Linked DNA regions of Homo sapiens: region 2 is linked to region 1. Evidence: fine-mapped expression QTL. Tissue or cell type: whole blood. Region 1 holds a variant in brackets; the other region holds the start of a gene. All regions are shown on one strand. Distances are from middle to middle.

Region 1 (2,769 bases):
AGGTGTCTGTTTTACAGATGAAGAAATCGAGGTTCAGCAAGGACTTGCTCAAAGTCACACAACTGGCAAGTGACAGAGACTGGATATGAACTGAGTCAGACTCCAAATTTTGACTCAAAAAAGACACTACCTTTGTGCTCTATAAAGTGCATTCATTAGGGCCTTTATCATGCCAGTCTGTCAGCAATTGTGTTCCCCCTGGCTCGGAGCCTTTCCTCCACACTTCAATCAAATAGAAATCCCTCATTGCAGTTGAGAACTAAGTGGAGTTACTGGCCCAAAGCATTCAGGTTAGCTCTATGGATAGTTTCCAAGTTGACCAAATCGTAACTGACCTGTTGAGAGACACAGGTGATTCAGGAGATAATTTTTTTCATACTATACTGGGAGGTGAATGGTAAAAAATACCATAGGATGAGGGAAACAAGGGGAAAATGAACAAAAACGATATCCATTATAACTACATAAAAAGAAACTGGCACACCAAACATCAGTGTTATTATGAAGAACTATTCACCATCTGAATCTGACCACAGTTAGAAAACCTGCCACATCACAAGCGCCTTGGATAATAAAAACATCTATTTCAAATGTTTTCCTAAAAAGCATTTTGAAAGAATAAATAAGATTTCAAAATAGAAAAAAAAATCTAACTGCATAAACTGAACACAATGCTGAATGCTATCCTCATCCAAACTGTCTTTCCTTTATCTTACTTATCACCTTCAATATACAATAAAAGTTCAGCCACAAAATCAGCTTAGAAAGGAGAATTACCTGGCCTAACTGCATAGATTGATTTGATAGTGAGATACTTTCCTGCAAAGACATTTATGTGTTATCTGGAAGAACTTTTAGCTCTTCATTTTAAGTTTTACCAGCGATTGATTTATTATAGGAAAAAGATTCAATTTTTCCTCTTATGCTCAGCAATGTGATTTTTTTAAGAAACAACAAGGCGAGCATGAGAGTTCGTGTCTGTAATCCCAGCACTTTGGGAGGCTGAAGTGGGTGAACCACTTGAGCCCAGGAGTTAAAGATCAGCTTGGGCAACATGGTGAAACCCCATCTCTACAAAACACTTAGCTAGGGGTGGTGGCACATGCCTGTCATCCCAGCTACTTGAGAGGCTGAGGTGAGAGGATCATCTGAGCCCAGAAGATCAAGGCTGCAGTGAGCCATGATTGTGCCACTGCACTCCAGCCTGGGTGACAGAGATAAGAGCCTGTCTCAAAAGAAAAAAGACAGGTTCAGTTCAAATAGGAAATCAGCATCTGTGGTTTCAGCTGGATTTCCCAAGTTACAGGGTTCACCTTCTGAATATGCTGCTATTCTTCCTCTTTTTGACGTTTCTGCACTTCCTAAGATCTCTAGCCCATAATCTTGCTCTAGAGACTACCATCTTTGAAACCTAACTCTCTCGTACTCTTACATACATTTTTGGTTTAGATGCTCATTGCCTAACTCTCAAACTAGAACTCTTGTTCTTCTTGAGCAAGAAATCTTTTCCTTCCTATTTACTTTTGTTTTTCCAAAAGCTGGCACAAAATTAGCACTTAAAAATAACTTTTG[G/A]CTAGCTGACTATTTCAAGAGTTCCAAATGACTTGGACGGAGACACAATTTTAAGTCATCAAAGGTCCATGACAACATATAAACATTGGACTGTTTCAAGATGGAGGTCTGACTGGTGGTTTTTCTTCCCTTTTTTGGTGCAATAGAATTTATATATTTAAACATTAGGTCAGTTACCTAAAATAAGTTAAACATTAGACCAGTAACCTAGAAAGAAAACTTGTTTTGAGGTTGCTAGTAATTTGGGTTCCAAGTTTAATGAGCCAATAAATCAAATGCTAAAGAACAAGATGATTGAATTTGAGAAGACAGTAGAAATAAGGATGTACCCCTTAGAGAAACAAAGAGTTCCCCTAGATAAACAGAAGAAATGGACAAGGAGCAATAGAAATGGGGCAGTGAGTACAAGGCAACCTACAAAGTCTGGAAGTAGTCCTTAGGAAGTTGTTCAAGGAAGGTAAAGGGCCACAGCCTGATAGGAGTTGAAAGAGTAACTGACAAAGGACCATTAAGCCCAGAAGCTGACTAGAAAGTGAGTTGCTCAGGCAGAATGCCCAGCCCTTACTCTCAGCAAGAATGTCCCATTTTGTGTGCCCAGCAATGACACCAATTGTTCTTATTGACCTACATGCTCAGAACTTCACTTCGTTATCATCCAGCACCTCAACCACTGATTGCCCTGTGTGGACTATTTTCCTTAAACCTCATCAGCTTGTGCTAATGTACTCCAAGAAAGGGAGGTGGGACTGTGGACATCTGGTGGGTAAGGAAAATTATCAGCATATCTGGCAGGTAGGAAGAATTATTGGTACATCTGTACTGTGTGGGATGAAATGAACAAAGGGTGGTAAGATCCCTACTCTACTGGCATCAAAAACAGTTGAACCATCTATTCTCAAGTGTGGAATCCTTGAGGCTTTCAATGTAACAATGTCTTTGCAACTTCCTAGTGAGGCTACTCATCAAACATGGTAGTTTAAATATACCTGCTTTATTCTATTCCATCCTAAAATATCACCAGAATAATAACAGAATAGTAAAGGGGATAACAACAGATAAGAGATATTATAATTTTGGAAGACAGAAAGTAGATGGGCCAGTGTTAACTAGCAAAGCAGAGGAAATGAAACCTAAGTGCGTGGAACTGGGAAGCCACTATACAAGGAAGCTAGTTGGTGCTCCAGAATCCCAGGAAGC
Region 2 (2,769 bases), 88 kb after region 1:
CACTTGAGCTCAGGAGTTTGTGACCATCCTGGGCAACATGGCAAAACCCCATCTCTACAAATAATACAAAAAATTAGTAGAGCATGGTTGTGTATGCCTATAGTCTCAACTACTTGGGGGGGCCAGGCAGGAGTTTGTGACCAGACTGGTTGACAAAGTGAGACACTGTCTCAAAAAAAAAAAAAAAGAAGAAGAAGAAGAAGAAAGAAAAAGAAGAGCTGGTACCATTTCCATACATCTTCTGAAGTCTAGGCAGGGGGTCTCAAACCTCAGTTCTTGACTTCTGGGCACCCACAGGCTCAAGACCACATGGAAGCTACCAAGGCTTGGTGCTTCCACCCTTTGAAGCAACAGCCCAAGCTGTACCATGGCCCCTTTTAGTCAGGGCTGGAGTGGCTGGGACACAGGGCACCAAGTCCCTAGACTGCACACAGCACAGGGACCATGGGGCTGGCCCACGAGAGCATTTTCTCCTAGGCCTCTGGGCCTGTAATGGGAGGGGCCGCCATGAAGACCTCTGATATGCCTTGGAGACATTTTTCCCATTGTCTTGGGGATTAACATTTGGCTCCTCATTACTTATGCAAATTTCTACAGCCAGCTTCAATTTCTCCTCAGGAAACCGGTTTTCTTTTTCTATCAAATTATCAGGTTGCAAATTTCCCGAATTTTTATGCTCTGCTTCCCTTATAAAACTGAATGCCTTTAACAGCACACAAGTCACCTCTTGAATGCTTTGCTGCTTAGAAATTTCTTCAGTCAGATACCCTAAATCATCTCTCTCAAGTTCAAAGTTCCACAGATTTCTTGGGCAGGGGCAAAATACCACCAGTCTCTTTGCCAAAACATAACAAGAGTCACCTTTGTTCCAGTTCCCAACAAGTTCCTCATCTCTATCTGAAACAGCCTCGGCCAAGACCTTATTGTCCATATTGCTATCAGGCTTTTGGTCAAAGCCATTCAACAAGTCTCTAAGAAGTTCCAAACCTTCCCACATTTTCCTGTCTTTTTCTGAGCCCTCCAAACCATTCCAGCCTCTGCCTGTTACCGAGTTCCAAAGTCACTTCCACATTTTCAGGTATCTTTTCAGCAGCACACCACTCTACTGCTACCAATTTACTCTATTAGTCCATTTTCTTGCTGCTGATAAAGACATACACAAGACTGGGCAATTTACAAAAGAAAGAGGTTTATTGGACTTACAGTTCCACATAGCTGGGGAGGCTTCACAATTATGGCAGAAGGCAAGGAGCAGCAAATCACATCTTACATGGATGGCAGCAGGCAAAAAAAAAAAAATGACCCTGTTCAGGAAAATTCCTGTTTTTAAAACTGTCAAATCTCGTAAGACCCATCACTATCATGAGAACAGTATGGGAAATACCCACCCCCATGATTTGATTATCTCCCACTGGGTCCCTCCCACAATACATGGGAATTATAGGAGCTATAAGATGAGATTTGGGTGGAGGCACAGAGACAAACCATATCACATGGAATCAACCTATATGTCCACCAACAGTAGACTGGATGAAGAAAATGTGATCAATATACACCATGGAATACTATGCAGTAATAAAAAAGAAAGAGATATGTCCTTTGCAAGAACACAGATGGAACTGGAGGCCACTATCCTTAGCAAACTAATACAGGAACAGAAAACCAAATACTGCCTGTTCTCATTTATAAGTGGGAGCTAAATGATGAGAACACATGGACACACAGAGAGGAACAACACACACTGGGGCCTTTCAGAGGCTGGAGGGTGGGAGAAGGAAGACAATCAGGAAAAATAACTAATAATTAAATAACTAATGGGTATTAGGCTTAAGATCTGGGTGACAAAATCTGTACAACAAACTCCCATGACACAAGTTTACCTATGTAACAAACCTGCATTTATACCCCTGGACTTAAAATAAAACTTTTAAAAAATAAACAAATGATAATAGCAGATTATAGCCCATTAAATAAACTAGGAATTCATGAGTTCAAATTACATAAACAAACAAATAATTATTCCTTACATAAGAATGCTAATTACTGTATGCAGAAGGAAAGGTAGAATTGGAAGGTCATTATTTGGCAACTATTATAGTAGTAGTTGATTGAAGAAGAAAGCATCAAATGATGCTGAATCTGAGTGAAGGTTTGATGACAACCAACATGGTCTCAAATTATCTCCCCACAAAGTGCTGTTAACTGCAAAGGGGAGATGAGTTACTTTGCAGTCATAAATGTTGTATCACTGGGCACAGTGGCTCATGCTTATAATCCTAGCATGTGGGAAGCTGAGGTAGGCTATTTTCTTTTAGTAATTTCATGGCTTGTGGTCTTAGATTTAAGTCTTTAATCAATTTTAATTTGACTTTTGTATATGGCAAGAGATAGGGGTCTAGTTTCATTCTTCTGCCTATGGATATCCAGTTTTCCAAGCCCCACTTATTGAAGAGACTGCCTTTTCTCCAACATATATTCTCGGTACCTTTGTTGAAAACAAGTTTACTGTAGATGTATGAGTTTGTTTCTGGGTTCTCTATTGTGTTTCATTAGTCTATGTGTCTGTTTTTATGCCAGTACTATGCTGTTTTGGTTACTGTAGCCCTGTAGTATAATGTAAATGACAAGTTAACCAGTGCAGCACACCAACATGGCACATGTATACATATGTAACAAACCTGCACATTGTGCACATGTACCCTAGAACTTAAAGTATAACAAAAAAAAAGAAAAGAAAAGAAAGGAACAGAGGAAAAGGAGGAAGGAAGG

Evidence for each region. PIP is the estimated chance that this variant, and not a neighbour inherited with it, causes the effect.
Region 2: it holds the start of LINC00639, and the variant in region 1 is fine-mapped to the expression of LINC00639 in whole blood (TOPMed, PIP above 0.99).

The regions. Positions count from the first base shown.
Region 1 is chr14:38,827,339-38,830,107 of GRCh38, forward strand. The region is part of intron 4 of LINC00639 (long intergenic non-protein coding RNA 639); the gene reads right to left. Among named protein-coding and RNA genes, the nearest start is that of LINC00639, 88 kb to the right of the region's middle. The variant G/A (reference allele first, on the strand shown) is at 1,573.
Region 2 is chr14:38,915,579-38,918,347 of GRCh38, forward strand. LINC00639 (long intergenic non-protein coding RNA 639) reads right to left here and starts at 1,304. Exons shown (of 5, transcript NR_039982.1): 1 at 1,204-1,304. All of the region lies in intron 4 of LOC105370457 (a long non-coding RNA gene), which reads left to right.